Regions from separate parts of the Homo sapiens genome. Here region 2 is linked to region 1. The links come from fine-mapping of genetic effects on gene expression. Tissue or cell type: whole blood. Region 1 holds a variant in brackets; the other region holds the start of a gene. All regions are shown on one strand. Distances are from middle to middle.

Region 1 (8,000 bases):
ATCTCACTGTGTCGCCCAGGCTGGAATGCAGTGGTGCCATCTCAGCTCACTGCAACCTCTGCCTCCCAGGCTCGAGGGATCCTCCCCACTCAGCCTCCCGAGTAGCACAGGCAGTGAGACCACAGGCACTCACCAGCACGCCTGGCTAATTTAATAACTTTTTTTCTTTTCTTTTCTTTTTTTTGAGACAGAGTCTCTCTCTGTTGCCCAGGCTGGAGTGCAGTGGCATGATCTCTGCTCACGCAGTGGCGTGATCTCTGCTGACTGCAACCTCTGCCTCCCAGGTTCAAGCAATTCTCGTGCCTCAGCCTCCTCAGTAGCTGGGACTACAGGTGCCCGCCACCATGCCCAGCTAATTTTTTGTACTTTTAGTAGAGACGAGGTTTCGCCGTGTTAGCCAGGATAGTCTCAATCTCCTGACCTCGTGATCTGCCCACCTTGGCCTCCCAAAGTGCTGGGATAACAGGCATGAGCCACCGTGCCCGGCCTAATAATTTTTTTTTGTAGAGACAGGGTCTAGCCATTTGCCCAGGCTGGTCTCGAACCCCTGGGCTCAAGCTATCCTTTTGCCTTGGCCTCCCAAAGTGCTGGGATTACAGGTGTGAGCTACTGCGCCCGGCTGCAAGTCTTTAATTTTGCCAAAATCAAACTCATTGACTCCCTTTTTAAAATTTTCATTATTTTATTTTTGAAACAGAGTTTTGCTCTTTTGCTGGAGTGAAGTGGCATGATTTTGGTTCACTGCAACCTCTGCCCCCTGGGTTCAAGTGAGTCTCCTCCCTCAACCTCCCAAGTAGCTGGGATTACAGGCACGCGCCACCATGCCCGGCTAATTTTTGTATTTTTAGTAGAGATGGGGTTTCACCATGTTGGCCAGGCTAGTCTCGAACTCCTGACCTCAGGTGATCCACCTGCCTCGGCCTTCCAAAGTGCTGGGATTACAGGCGTGAGCTGCCGCGCCTGGTATCCACTGCTTTTGAAGTTTTGTACAGAAAATTCTTCTTCCCCTTTGTCACATGGATATCCTGGCATCTTCTGTGAACTTGGTCGTTTTGCCTCTCATGACGTCTAGTACTGCTGGGGCTGGTTCAGCTTTGTGGGGTTAGTGGGGGTCCCTGTTGTGTTTCTCCACACATTTTCCCAGCACCACTCTCACCACCTTCCTGGGTAACGGGTGCCCCGGGCTGGGACCATGGCATCCCCGCAGGTGTGAGGAACATCTTACTGTACGTGCTGCTGTGTCAACCTCTTGGGAAATCAACCGTTTTGTAATTTTTTTTTTTTTTAAAGAGACAGCCCTTCCTAAATGGCATGGGAAGCCCCTCTTGGGTTCTGCGGGGCCTGACTGGGCACGGGCGGACAGGGCCAGCTGTGGGGGAGGACAGAAGGGGAGCAAGCGCCACAAAGACATGCTTGTCCCGAGACAGACGGGCCTTGTTGGTGGAGATATTTGCTTGTGGCTACTGGTGGCCCCACTGGCAGCTCAGGCCACCCACCCTGAGGTCTGATGTTCAAAGCCCCGCCCTCCCTCCTCGCCCAGTGTGGACTCTCCCACACTCACGGCCAGACCCTCGGCAACCCTGGCCCCACCAGGGCCAGCACCAGCAGACCCTCCTTCTTTCTGTGGACCTGCCTGATGGGGAAGTGGGTAGGGAGGCCGGGGAGGGAGTGAGTGGTTAAGGACACGTTGGAACTAAGAGAGATTGCATGTTAACCCCAGCCCCTGCCCCAAACTCGGGCCTCGAGCAGGTGACCTGGCCCCTCTACGGGTCATTCTTATCCACGCCTGCCTCACGGGGCTGCCACTGGGGCCTCCGGAGGCCGCGGGCAGCACTCAAAACACCACAGGCCCCCAAGAGTGATGCCCTCAGGGCAGGAAGGGGGGCAATCCTCACCCCTGGGGCGGGTGGCCAGAGAGGACACAGAGAGCCAGCCCACCCGATGCCAGGTGACCCTGTGCCCATCACCAGGCCGGTGAGGTCGGTGGTCCCATCTGCTCTTGAGGGGGGTCTCAGGAGGTGGCAGGAAGCCCCTTGGAAGAAACGGGAGGTAATTTCTGGAAGCCCAGAGGTCCGAGCAGGCAGCTGGGGCCAGGGTGCCTCGGACTCAGGGCTCCTGGGGTGGGAGCCTGCTTGGGGCCTAGGGCTGGGATCTGGGGGCTGGAGTCTGGGGGTCTGGCTTCCTGGGGCTCCTCAGCTGTGCAGGTGGCAGAGTGGGGCACAGCAGGTAGGGGGCTCTAAATGGGGCTGGGGGAGGTGGACAGGGAGAAGGCTGAAGAAGCAGGTGTAGATCTGGGGCCCTCAGAAGCTGAGCAGCCCAGCCTGGAGGCTGCATATGAAGCCCAGACCATCCTGGTGGAGGAAGGGTCCTGTTGCTGGGAGTGGTTGGGGAGTGGGCAGCCTCCCTCACTTCCAAGGACTGGCATCCTGGGGCCCACAGAGGCCCCTTTTGGAGCAGATATAGCCCCGGTGCCTATCCCCGTCCTGAGGTGGTGGCTCAGCAGGCAGCGGGAGCTGCAGGTTGCAGGGAGGAGGGCCGGTGCCCCCATCCCTCCCCTTTTCCTCTTGGACCTGTCTCTCTCACTGCAGGGTCCATCTGACAGGGTGGGGGGGCCTCTTCCGGGGGCCTGGAGGAGTGGTGGTGGCCATCAAGCCCGGGTCGTGGCTCAGAGGGCACCAGACAATCCCTGCTGCCCCGACCAGACACTGTGGTTAAGACTTGGCCTAGTGTGGCCTGAGCTGTGAGTCAGGGCTTCTGTGGCCTGGTGTCCAGGCCTGGCTGGGTGGTGGACCAGGCAAGGGACACGCCCCCCCCAGCCCAGCCCCACAGTCGCCCCTGCCCAGGCCAAGACCCCAGGACTGTGTCCCCGGATGCTCCGCACCAGGGTTGGGTTCACGGCTGCTATGGGGACACATGGTTGTGGGTTGCCCCCTGCCACCAATCCAGGGCGAGGGCACCCCTGGCGGCCACTCACGGCAGCACATGGAGCGGCCGGCAGAGGGCACCAAAGGCCCCTCCAAGGGTGCGGCTCAGGTGGACCGCCCATCTGGCGGTCAGGTGCCCCTCCCACGCAGGGTGCTGAGTGTGGCCTGCTCCCCCTTCTTGGGAGCCTCCGTCAGCCTGGGCTAAGATCTCCAAATCCAGTTTCAGCCTTGCCCTCTGACTCATGGCCCTCCTGGGGCCTGCCGACCGTCTGGCCGAGCTGGCTCTGTCCCCACCGCTCCCACTAGGGTTGTGCCCAGCGAAAGCCGGGCTTGGATGACACGCTTTGGGCCTTCTGGTCGCTGGGCCTGGGAGGGCCACAGGAAGAGAAGTGGGCAGGGTCCCCTCTGGGCTCAGGGGCAGAGCAGCCTGGCGGACGGCCAGCCCTCTGCCCGGCACTGCTTAGAAAAGGTGCAGTTTCCGGGGGCTCCAGGACCCACTCCGACTCCCAGAGAACTGAGACACACGGCTCCTGGGAGACTTAACTGGTTTAATTGCTTAGCCCTGGTGCCTCAGCCACCTCTCATCTGTAGGGTGAGACTCAAGTCCAGGCACCAAGACACACCAGCACCCCCAACACCATGCGGGGATCATTGGCCTGAAACTTGGCCAGAGAAAGCTCCAGTCCTGGGCCTGTAAGAGTGGGCGCTGGGAGTGTCTGAAGCCGGCACGGTGTCCCCTGCGTTGTCGGCCCTTGCAGGTGAAGTGTGTGTCGTTCCCCCACTTTCCCCCGAATGGCACCCAC[G/A]GCCTCCTGCTGGAGCCCCTCCCGGGCCCCCCTCAGGGAGCAGAACTCTGCGTGTGTGCGAGGTTCAGCCTGGCCAGCCTGGAGCTCCAGCTCACCCTGGGGTGTGGATGGATGTAGAAGTGGGTGGGGATGGGGGAGCATCACAGGGGCCAGGACCCCCCAGGTGCACAGGGGAGGCCAGAGAAAGAGGCCCCAGCCCCAGGGAGTTCTGTGGCCTCAAGAGAAGGTGGACAAGGGGCTGGCACCACCAAGCAGCAGGTTTGGCTGAGATTAGTCTTGGTGTGGGCTGAGGCCTTGGGTACTGTTTGGCCTAAGGATGGGCGTTGTGCCTCCAGACAGGGGCAGGGACCTCTAGCCAGCACCACACCCCCTCCGTGTCCTTGATACAAAATACATACACATATAAAAATAATACTCCATGCATTGTGGGTGGGCTTCCCCTCCGCAGGCCCCAGCCCAAGGCAGCTGGGCCTAGCTGTCCTCCCCCCTCCTCTGATTCATGGAATGAAACTTGTTCATGAGTTCTTCCAGCTCCGACCCACTTTGCTGCTTCTAGGGAGGAGAAATGGGGGCATCCTCAGCCGGGGGTCCCACGTGTCTGGGTGCCGGCCTCCCCCTTGCTCTGCGACCCCAGGAACGGGCGGGGGAGAGGAGGGCGCAGGGGCAGGAGGGGCGTGGCGCCGGAGCGCAGGCGGGCTCACCTCCAGGAAGGCCTTCTGCATGGTGAGCTGGCTGTACACGCGGACGCCCTCCTCGCCGCACACTTTCTTCAGCTCCTCCTTGTTGAGGGAGAAGAGCTGCGGCCCGGTCAGGATGCCCAGGTTCTCCACGATCCTGGGGGCGGGCAGTTGGGCGTCAGGGCCGCGCTGTGAGCGAGGCTGCCTGGCGCCCGCCCCGACAGCTGCGCACCTTCGGCCGCACCTCCCACCCCTCGCCCGGGCCCCAGCTCATCCCCCGCCCCCGCTCACCGCGGGCTGAAGGCCTTGGCTTCCAGCCAGGCGCGGACCTCGTCCGGACCCGACTCGTAGGTGAGCGGCTGGCTCACGGGCTGGCTGCGCTCCACGCGGAAGTGCCTCTGTGGCTGCGCCCTGATGTTGCTGATTTTCCGGATGAGCTCGTCGTTGACCTCGTCCATGTGCTGCATGAGCTCTGAGGGGGCGCGCGACTCAGGCCCGCCGCTGCCTTGCCCCTGCCCCCGCCCCCGGCCCAGGGACCCCCCCCACACTTCCTCCCCCAGGTGGCCCTGGGCCCGGGACCCCCGCCTCGAAGCAGCAGCTCTCACCGTCTTTGTTCCCCGGGAAGCTTGGGGGTAGCTTGTGGGTCGGGCTGGCGGGGCCCCAGTACTTCTGACCGGCCTGCGGGGGCGGGGGGCGATTAGGCTCCCCACGCCCCGCCCCCGCCTCCCAGCACCTGCCCGGGACCTCCCCACCCCGCCAATCCCCCTACAGCCCCGGCCTGCGGACCAGCCCTTTCCTTCTGCCCAGGGAGCCCTGCACCTGCCCCAGTCTCTCCAGCCGCGGGGCTGGCCTTGGGGCGGGGCTAGGCGCAGGCGGGGCTGCTCCAGGAAGCTGGGGGCTGCGACCCCAGGGACCCCCGCGGGCTCACCTGCTCGAACGGGGCGCCGGCGTCCTCCGGTCGCGCCTCGCCTAGGATGTTGCAGGGCACGTACCCCGCCTGGCCGCTGCGGCTGCGCAGCTTCCACCACTGCCGGCCGTCCTCCAGCACCTGCGGGGCGCGCCGTCAGCCCCTCCCCACACCCAGGCTCTGCGGGGCTGGGACCACCCGCTGGCGCCGCTTTACAGAGGTCGGGAGCGCCCTAGGGTCTCCCGGAGCCCCGCTTCGCTCCATTCTCTCCGCACCCCTGTTTCCACCCCTCCATCCCTCGCTGGGCTGCTCCTCCCCCACCCTGCCTCAAGGAGTCTGGGGGACCCTTTTTTTCTCGGAGACAGGGTCTCACTCTGCCGCCCAGGCTGGAATGCAGTGGTGCAATCACTGCCCACTGCAGCCTCGACCTCCTGGGTTCAGGCGATCCCCCCACCTCAGCCTCCAGAGTAGCTGGGACCACAGGCACACACCACCACATCCAGATAATTTTTATGTTTTTTGTAGAGATGGGGTTTTGAGGTGTTGCCCAGGCTTGTCTCGAACTCGTGGGCTAAAGGGATCCTCCCGCCTTGGCCTCCCAGTGCTGCGGTTACAGGCGTGAGCCGCCGAGCCAGGCTGTGGATGTGGCCCACTCCCCCCTAGCCTGCTCCACTTTCTGTCCCCCAGTGGGTGGCCTGGATTCCGGCTGGCAGATGCGGCCAGTGCAGATGTGGGGGCTCCTGGGTGGGTGTGAATGACAGGCCCCCGCTGAGTCCACGTGGTGCAGATGCTCCCCCCAGCCTGGCACAGGGGTCTCTGCATGCCTTTGGGGAGCCCCAAGATGGGAAGGCCCCTCCAACAGGCTGGGGATCCTGATCAGAGTCCAAGGGCGGGGACCCTGGAGAAAGGGGCCAGCAGCTGTGCCCCGTCCTGGCATCACCCAGCCTGGCCCTAGACCGCTCCCCACCTCCCCTGGTAGCCCCTCCCTTGAAGCCCTGCCCTGTTTCCCCCTCTTGGACCCCGTCCTCCAGCCCCTCACCTCTAGGACCTCATCCTTGAGCACCGATAGCTCGTTGGCATTTCGGGCTGTGAAGTCATACAGGATCTTGACGTACTTGGCCATGGCTGGTGTTGGCTGGTAGCCCCTGTGAGGAACAGGAGGGGCTGAGGCCCAGTCTGGTGGGGGTCTCCTCTGAGACCTGGGCAGTGGCTGGGGGGCAGCAGCTTCCCAGGTGCACGACTGGCTGCCTCTTTTCTGTTCTGGAGGTCACCGTGGAGAGAGGCTGCAGGCAGCGTCAGCCCGGAATGGAAACTGTGACAGCCCCAGAGCTTTGGGGCCCTGCGTGGAGGCGGGGCAGGCAGGAGGTGGGCGTGGCGCAGGGGCCTGTGGTACAGCAAGGCTGGCCCATCCCAGGCCACCTCAGGGGTCTCCAGTCCGGCACCCCAGGGGAACCAGAGCCAGGGGCGTTCCTGGGAAACGCCAGGGTCACAGCTCCCCGCAGCTGGCCAGTGAGGGCCAGCATGTCTTCAGAGCCGTGGCCCCTCTGAGGACTGAACACAGCCCAAATGGTCCAGTGGAGGACGGGTCTCAAGCTCCTCTCTGTGGGGTGGGACCTGCACCTCAAAAGCGCGGGGGGGCTGGCCCTGGCTGAGGGGTCCTGGCTTTGGCATGTAGCAGGCCTGTGGCTGTCACCTGGCCAGGCCGTCCATCCTGGTCAGTGTGGCCCTGGTCATCAGGGCAGCTCCCGTGTCCAGGTGCTCAGGGAAATGAAGTGGCCATGGACTGTCAGGACATGGCCAGGGTGGACAGACCAGGAGCTGAAGTCAAAGGGTGGAAATGTTTTTAAGTGTGGTCCTAGGCCAGGGACCACGGGAGCCAGGCTGACACTGTGGGTGAGGGGAGGCCATGCTTGCTTAGAAGATGGATTGCTGGCCCCTCTTTACCCCAAAATTGAATCCTGGGGTGTGGGAGGGTCAGGGGCTTCCCATGCAGATTGGACCAGGAATGAGCACAGAAGGGAAGAGGAGAGGCAAGGAAAGACGGGACTCCCCTAGTGCCATAGGCTTGTTCTTTGTCCTCTTTGGAAACAGGTGGGGCTGGGGGTGGGAGGAGGGGAGAGGCTTCACTAGCCCAGAACCCCAGTCTCCTCTTTTGGCTCTACCAGAGGTTGGGCCTGAATCAGTCCCAACAGCCCCAACAGGGTGCCAGTGTTTGGTGAAACCACTCAAGTTCAGTGGTTTAGTAGTTTCTAACCTTGGTTCTAAAACATACATGTGGATGCACAGAAAAAGCTGATATATTAGGGTAGAGAATTTGTGCATGACTTTTGAAATGTTTCCTTTAATTATATATCATGCAGTTGAAATGAAAACCGCTTCAAATCTGGAAAAGTATTTTAAACCACTTGAACAATGCACTTGCCACCACCTGGTGGCAGCGTACCCATATGTTTTTAGAGACTGTAGGTTCTGAAGGGTTTCACTTTCATGCTCCCTCACTTTGAGGGGGGCTTACCTGTGAGTATGTGGGGAGCTGACTGGTGGTAGGGCATCCCCCGGGGGGGTGGGCTCTGAAGTGGGGCTGTGCTTCTGGGAGTTTCTTATGGACTGTCGGCTCACTGGACTCACCTGTGGGGAAGGTGGGCGACCTGAGTTAGACATGGGGCGGGGCTGGGTCCCAGGACGAGGG
Region 2 (8,000 bases), 20 kb after region 1:
GAACCAGAGGGGCGCTTTCCCCGGCCCCGTGGCTGAGCCCGGGACAGTGTGGGCAGTTCTGGCTCTGGCCTCCCCCGGCCCCGTGGGTGTCAGAAGCTGGGCTGACCACTCTCCCTGGAGCTTTCCTCCCTTCCTCCCTTCCTCCCTTTCTCTCTTTCTCTCTTTCTCTCTTTCGTTTTGAGACAGGGTCTAGCTCTGTCACCCAGGTGCCCAGGCTGGAGTGCAGTGGTGCGATCTTGGCTCACTACAGCCTCCGCCTCCCGGGCTCAAGTGACCCCCTCGCCTCAGCCTCCCCAGTAGCAGGGCCTACAGGCCGGCACCACCATGCCCGTCTAATTATTTTATTTTTTGTGGAGACGAGAACCTGAGGACAGCCATGTCCTGAGGGTGCTCCCTGGGGGCGGAGCCTACCTGGGGGCGGGGCCTTACCTGGACGTGGTACTGCGAGGTCTCGTGCATGATGACGTTGGAGTTGGAATACTTCTTCCTCTGCTCTGAACCGGGAGACACCAGTCACTCCCCCGACGGGCAGGACCCACAGCCTCCCGTCCAGTTGGGACTGGACCCACAAGGGAAGGTGGAGTCAAGCGGAGGGAGGCTGCTCCGTGGACCTCTTGGCCACCAGGAAGGATGTGGGTGTGAAATCAGGACCTGCAGGAAGCCCCCTCCCTCCCTCCAGGGAAGCCCCCTTGGAGAAGGACGCAGCTCGGAGAAGGCGATGGGCTTGCTCTGAGTGGAGTGGGGACCAGCAGCCTGTGCCCGGGGGGTTTCTGTCCCGGAGGGTGAGGGGACAGGAAGGGGGTCCCAGCCCGGCTTCTTCCCACTCTGAGAGCTGCCAGCTTCACTCTCCCTGCCCTCCCAGGTCTTCTCGCTTTCCAGACTAGGCACCTTGTCCAAAGACATAAGTGAAGGGTGCATCTAGCTAGCGAGAGGGCAGGGTCGTCTCTGGGGAAGGGCAGAGTGGGGGGAGGTGGGGGCTGGCCAGGCCCCCCTCCTGGAGCAGACACCTGGCGGCTTATCCTGCCTGAACCTCGCTGTGATCAGGTTACAGCAATGAGTGCAGCGGAATCAATATTGATGCTCCCTGAATTATTAGTAAAGGCCTCTCCCCTTACGGGTGTGGGGGAGGGGATCCAGTGGCCAGGAGCTTTCGGAAGGTTGATTAGGGTCCAGAGGCCTCCCTGGGCACCCGGAGATCCCCTGGGCCAGACCAGGCACAGCTGTGGGGCAGGAGCAGCTGTCCCCCACCTGGATGCAGTGCCCATTTCTCCCCTGTGACGTCCAGCCCGTTCTCAAACCTCACTCACCAAACAGGTCCTTGGGGCTCATCTTGGCCACACCGTCGGACCGGCCCAGGCTGCCACTGCAGGGGAGGGGCTGTCAGGGCAGGGCCAAACTGCACCCCTCCCTGGGGACTGTTCAGAGGGTGAGGGTGGGGTATTCGGGATGGGTGGGAGGGCTCACTTGGTGGCACCCGGGCAGCAGCTCACGGCCCCGGACTGGCTCATGGTGTCTTGGGTGGCGGCCAGCGGGAGAAGGGCAGACCTCAGTGTGGCCCCGGTCTGAGGCCAGTGCCTGTCCCACACCTGGGTGGACAGAAGGGCTGCGCTGACACTTCCTCCGGCCTGGCTGGTTCCTCCCCTCCTTCCCTGGGCCAGATCCCTGACTGGCCTGGCCTGGGTGGGGGTCCCTTGGGGGGCAGAGCCCCTGCCCGACATCCCAGTTGGCCCCACGTCCCAGTTGGCCCCACGTCCCAGTTGACAGTCGATCAGCCTCGTCATGCCTCAGACCCTAGGTGCTCCACAGGGACCCCCCAGAGGCTGACTGGGAGGCTCTGACAAGGGCCCTGGGGGCAGAAGGCGCCTTCCAAGCTGGGCAGCATGGAGTTTAAGGCCCTGGTGCTGTGGGGAGGGGGGTGGGATGGGTAAGGGGAGGGGGATGAGGTGGGAGTGTGGGGGGAGGGGGGTGCGGTGGGGGTTGGGGGAGGGCGGGTGGGAGCTGCAGGATGGCAGGAGAGGTGAGGCTGGAGTTGGGGTAGGTCCTGAAGTCCAGAGGGAGCCCGGCTCTAGCCGCCACTCCTGCCCCACCCCAGGCCTGCACCCCAAGGGGCTCCTGCACCCACATGTGGACTTGCCACCCACACATGCCACCTCTGTCCAGGCCCCAGCAAAGAGGCTGGCCCTTGGCTCTTTCCTGGGCCTGGGAGACCTGGCAGGGAAGAGGCTGTGCGGGCAGGAAACCCTGGGGTCCCCGGGGTGCAGTGTTTCCTCACCTCGAGGGCAGGGATGCGGCCAGGTGGCCAGCGCAGAACCCCTGGCAGCAGCCAAGCCTAGGGGAGGGACTGGAGGGCAGGTGTGGTGGGGGCTGAGACTGGGAGCCAGTCCAGTGGCCCCAACACACAGTATCACTGCCCCTCCAACGAGGTAGGGTGGCTATGGGGCAGGTGCCTCTGGCCTCCCCCAGGGGCAGAATCCTCAGAGCCTGTCTCTGGGCTCCTAGTGCTGACCTCTTCCCCGAGCATTTTGGGGAAACTAAGGCCCAGCCGCCAGGGCAGACAGGTGGGTCTGATTTGGGCTGGACCCTAGGGGCTTCCCGGGGGGATGGACAGAGCCTGATGGCCCTGAACCAGGCTGACTTGTCCCAAGGGGACTATGCCCTGTGGGGACCTGGCTGTTCTGTGGCTCTGTGATCAGCTCCCCACAGGTCCACACCATCTGCCTCCTGCCAGGGCTGCAGGGCTGTCCCCTGTGGCTTCAGAGTTTGGGTCTGCCACGGTGGGGGTCACCAGCCACTGCTGTTGGTATGGAGGGTCAAGGGAGTGGCTCGGAGCACCCGGGACTTTCTGGTTTGACCAGGTCTGGCCTAGTGGGAGGGTCTGGGAGGCCCGGGGGCACTGCCGCTGACATGAGGGGCTGGGTGCACCAGGGGGTATGGCCACTTCCTCCATCCATCTATCCGTGGAGAATGTCTGGAATGTTCACGGGCTCAGTGGCGAGCCTGAGTGTTTGCTTAATGGGATTCCTGGCGGGCTCCACCAAGGGCGCCAGGCACGTGTGTCCAGGCACACACCTGGGCGAGACACCAACGCACCCTTGCAGACTCAGGCCTGGGGGCACGCAAACATGGAGGGCTGTGACACGCGACCCCCCTGGGGAAGGCCAGGTTCCTGGCCTTCGGTTGCCTGCAGGGCATCGGGGACCTCAGGCCCAGGCAGGGCCGGGCAGCAGTGGGGTGGGTCCAGGTGTGGTGTCTGGGTCTGAAGCACATGGGTATGGGGCTGCCTCCTGCCCTGTGGGAGCCCCGCCCCCCTGGGGAGGCTTCTTTGGCCCACTGGTGGTGGGGACGAAGCCCTGGAGGCCCAGGCTGCACTTTGTACTGTGGTCATTTTCCCGGTGTGAAGTGAGGCAGAGCGGGGTGCCCGGTCAGTCGGGCTGTGGAGGGGAGGAGGTCCCAGCAGGGCAGGAGGGTAGAGGGACGGGCTCCAAGTTCAAGTTCCAGCTCCACATGCTGAGTGACCTTGGGGAGGGGTCAGCTGAGTCACAGGGGCTCCAGGCTGCCCTCATAGGCGCTGGGTGGGGCCCTGGAATGGGGAGGCCCCTCAGGCCCTGGCCCTGTCCTTGTTTGGAAGCTATGGCTTGAGGGAGGAAGGGATAAGCTGGGGAAGCTGAGGGTGGGAAAGGAGACCGAGGCAGGCGGAGAAGGCCCGGTGGGAGAGCTATGCCAACAAGGCCTGGGTGCTAAGCAGGCCCGGGAGAGGCTGGGACCCAGGAGGGGCCGCGAGGGGAGGAGGGGCCGCGAGGGGAGGGGCCGCCGCCAGCTGGGCCTGCCTCCCAGCACAGCCGACCCAGGACTGAGCACGGGGTGGGTGGGGGCAGAGGTCCGGGCATGCCCGGCCCTGCCTCCCCCTCCCCTGCCACCAGGGACACCCCGCAGCAAGGGGCAACGCCAGGCAGCTGGACGCAGGGACCAGGAATCTAGGATGGCTGAAGTTCGCGTGCCCACAGGCTCCTGCCAGCCCACCCTCCTGCCTCTCCTGGCAGGGCCTCTGCAGCCCCTGTCCCAGCCTCCCCTCCTCCCTGAAACTCCCACCCCCAACCCTGACCTGGAGACTGACCCAGCTGGTGCTTCCCGGCCACTGGTTTCCTTCTGGGCTCCGACACCCAGGAAGTGCCTCCTGGCTCCGGCCCACAGGGAGTGGGTGTGCAGTGCTACCTCCACGGTCAGGCCCTCGGGAGGGTCCTGCTGCTCACAGAACCGGGAGAAGCCTCCCTACCACCAGCGCTCTCCGGACGCAGGGATTGCCCCCACCAAGCCCCAGAGCTGGGAGTGGGCAGGACGGGGCAGGTGAGTCACCCATCGCTGGCTTAAAAATATCCTTGCTCGCCGGCCGCCGCCCAGGACCGACGGGGGCAGGCCGGGCTGCAGCAGGACCCGTCCAGGAGAGGTGGGGACTCGACCAGGCCCCCAGCCCCTTGCCCCGCGCCCTCGGCCCGGCCGCCCTCCAAGTGCCCCGCGCCCTGCGACGCCGCGTTCGTCCCGGTGTCCTGAACCAGAAGCCCCGCGTCCCATCGCCACCGGGTAAACTGAGGCCCGGGCGGGCGCGCTCCCCCGTGTCCGCAGCGCTCACCTGCCTCCGGCGCCCCGCGCTCGGCCTGTCCCCTCGGCGCTCGCCGGTGCGTCCGTCTGTTCGCGCCTCGGCCGGGGCGCCAGGTCTCCCGCGGGCGGGTGGGACGCTCGGCGGGGCCGGGCCGGGGCGGGGCCGGGAGAGGAGGAACCTGAGCGACAGGTTGCGGAGTCACCCGAGAGCGGGCGGGCGCGCGGGGGAGGAGGGCGTGGGATGGAGGCGCCCCCGCCGGCCTCGGACCCAGCTCCGCCCCGCCCCCTGCCCCGCCTGGGCTCCAGCCCCAGCCCTCTGCGTCCTCCCCAACACCCGCCTGGTGTGCCCCTCCGCGGGCCTAGCCCCTAGAGCTGGGGCGCTGGGGACAGGCGGGGCGCAGGGCCGCCTCCGCGGGATGAGCAGGGCGAGGCCTCGAGCTCTTCCTTGGGCAGGGCCTAGCTGCGCCCCAGCAGGCCGGGGGACGGGGGAACGCTGCCAATGGGACTTCGGGGGCAGCGCTGGCGCATTGCTGGGGAGGGCTCCAGCCCTGGGGAGGTCAGAGCCTCCGCCGGGCCAGGTGCACCCCTCAGGTGCCCCAGGCATGGGGCAGAGTCACTTCCCTTACCGGGCCCACCGCAGGCCCAGGGGCAGAGGCTTCGGTGAGTGGGTGGGTGTCAGGCAGGACCCAGCCATGCCCACCCCAGGCCTGGAGCCCTGAGTTCACAGTGCAGCTGCTCCTCCAGGCCCCCCTTTCTGCCCAGCCTGGGCACTGAGGGATGGGGTGTCAGGGGAGGTGGGGACACCTCAGGCCCTCTCAGGATGCCTCTCTCCTTGCACTGCCCCGTGGTCAGGCCCAGGCCCCACCTCTGCCCACCACAGTGGGACTGTCTGGTTCCGTCCTCATCTGCCCGGCTTCCAGGATGGCCCTTCTCCCCAGCTGCTGTGACCGCTCAGAACAGGGCCAGGGTGCAGTGGACACAGCGGGTAGCACCGGCTGCCACAGCAGTCAACTGGACGAGGACGAGGTGAAGGGGCACAGGGCGCCCCAGGCCCATGCAGGGACCCAAGGCTCCGGCTGCCGGTCCTGGGTAGGGGTGGGAATGAGCGTGGCCAAGAGTCTGGGTCCCCGGGCTATGGTCCCAGAGGGGCAGGGCTAGCGTGTTTACCCTGGGCTGGCCGGAGCACTTCCTGGGGAGGCGCCATAGGTGAGCTCGGTGGAGGGCTGGCAGGAAGTGGCCCTCCTCCTTCGGGCCCAGTGCCTGCCCCTGAGCCCAGGCAAGACCTGGCTTCCTGGTTTACAGCCTTTGCCGTTTGATCTCCAGGAACCTGCCGTGATCCTGCTCCATGCATGAGCTTGCCCTGACCCAGAGCTCAGGGTCACACACGCCAACCCCTCGGTGCACCCGTGCCCTCACCCTTCCTGGAGGCAGAGCTGGGAGTGGCCAAGTGGGAAACAGGCGCTGGAGAGGACAGCTGGGGGGTGGGGTCCCTCTCCACTCCTAAACGGGTGCCTGTCAACACGATTTTGAGTGCGGAGCCTGCCCTCAGGAGACAGTCCAGGCTGGCCTCTCGGGCCCCATCCACTCCGGGTCACCTGGAGCCATGGCGTTCCCTGTGGAACAGGTGACCACTGCCTTTGTGTGCTCGCTGAGACTGGAGGTATCAGGATCCATTAACCATGAAGGCAACAGGTCTCCAGCTTCAGGGAGGGGGTCCTTCCCTGGTCTGCATGGTTTGTGGGCTGGGTCCTCCAGATGGCAGGTGTGCCCAGCTGGTCTTCTGCGAGTGCAGGCGCTGGTGAGGGAGGTGGCCCGAGGCGCTCAGGCGCTGGTGTGTGAAGTGGGTCCTCAGGGCTGTCCTGCAGCTCACCGTGGCCACTGGGGGCCACAGACAGGTCAAAGGAAGTCGGCCCAGGACAACTGGGTGCTCCCACCGCTTCCACGAAGACAGGCAGGAAAGACTGTCCAGGTGCCACAGCCACAGCCACCCCAGCCGAGGGAGCCCCAGTGGAGGCCCAGGACAGTCCCGCAGCCTCCTGCCCTCAGGAGTCCACCGAGCGGAAGGCGCCCGGCAGCCAGGGCCCGAGGGCGAGGCCAGCCAGGAACTGACCAGCTGGCAAGTGGGGTGTGCTCTCTTGCAGGGCAGGAGAACTGGAGATGGGGTGGGGGAGGTGGCCATAATTAGGAGAATTCAGGGAGGCATACACATCTCTTTATTTACAAAATGCGGTGAAGAGAAAATATCTAGATATTTGGGTGTAATTATTCCAAACATAGAAAACACACAATAGAATCAAGTGAAGGGAAAGCTACTGTAACAGCTTAGATACTTTTTAAGGAGAACTGATAGTAAATCTGGGAATGGGAAAAAAACACAGAGCTAGAATTTGTTTAGCACTCCGTGCAAAAGGCAAAAGCTGATAAAACTGGAGTGGACGGAGGCTCCGAATGTGGCCCTCCGCTGCTCTCTCTCCTGCAGTCTCATCCCCGGCCTTAGCCCTGACCTCTCCTCCGAAGCCCCTGAAGGGAGAAGTGTGGCTAAGATGGAAATTGCTAGGCAGCAGAGCTGTTGGCTTGTTTGCATTTATTGCTTTAGGAACCCAGAGTCCACTCTTGCACCGGGCCTGCCTGCCTGTGAGGCAGAGCTGGGGTTGCTCAGAGCACAAGGCCTACCCCATCCTGCGTCTCCAGCCCGACTTGGAAACACAGGTGGGGCCTGGCCACGGAGTAAACTGGGATCTCAGAACACAAATTAGGACCATTGGGGAACTAGGGGGTGATGGGGGATGCAGTGAGATGAGGCCTCTGTTCTGAAGGGCTCTGTCCTCCCTCTCGGCCCTGGGGGCCCATGGGGGTCTGTGGAGGCCTGGCTGCTAAAGCCAGACCCCACTGACAGGGCTGAGTGTGCGCTCCTGGGACTCATCTTGAAGGCAGTTCTGTCTGGTCCCTACCCTCCCCGCAGCTGTTCCCAACACCAGGGCCTCCAGCAGTTTGTTCTGCCCTGGCTCCTGCTCCCACTCCTGCCAGAACAGATGGAACCATCCAAAACCATCTATGGCCAGTCACTAGGAAAAGTGCCCTTCCTGTCCAGGAATGGGGAGGTGACAGCTGGGGGACTGGTCAGGCCCAGGAGGAGGGCCCCAGTGTGGGGTATCCCGGGTGTCCGTAGCTACCTGGTGAAGGCCGCGATGGCAACCACCTGCAGGACGGCCTCCAGGCCGTGAAGGGCCAGGAGCGTGGCGCTGAGGGCCCAGTCCGCCCACAACACTAGGGCCTGCCAAAGCAGGAAGTGGGCAGAGAGGAGGGCGGTGCCAGCCGTGAGGGCCAGGCTGGCGGCCAGCGGCCTCTCAGCCTCTGTCAGGTTGCCCCTGGTGCCTGGAGAACAGAGCAAAGGGGAGGGAAGG

What was found. PIP is the estimated chance that this variant, and not a neighbour inherited with it, causes the effect.
Region 2: it holds the start of EPS8L2, and the variant in region 1 is fine-mapped to the expression of EPS8L2 in whole blood (TOPMed, PIP 0.94).

The regions. Positions count from the first base shown.
Region 1 is chr11:723,180-731,179 of GRCh38, reverse strand. EPS8L2 (EPS8 signaling adaptor L2) reads right to left here. Exons shown (of 21, transcript NM_022772.4): 15 at 7,827-7,939; 16 at 6,351-6,456; 17 at 5,333-5,452; 18 at 5,010-5,082; 19 at 4,696-4,876; 20 at 4,429-4,561; 21 at 3,453-4,279. The coding sequence ends at 4,199. Among named protein-coding and RNA genes, the nearest start is that of TALDO1, 20 kb to the left of the region's middle. The variant G/A (reference allele first, on the strand shown) is at 3,728.
Region 2 is chr11:702,916-710,915 of GRCh38, reverse strand. EPS8L2 (EPS8 signaling adaptor L2) reads right to left here and starts at 4,685. Exons shown (of 21, transcript NM_022772.4): 1 at 4,628-4,685; 2 at 1,465-1,586; 3 at 1,308-1,363; 4 at 430-494. The coding sequence starts at 1,508. It overlaps TMEM80 (transmembrane protein 80), which reads right to left. Exons shown (of 5, transcript NM_001042463.3): 5 at 6,787-7,971. The coding sequence ends at 7,766. It also overlaps a transcript of DEAF1 not described here.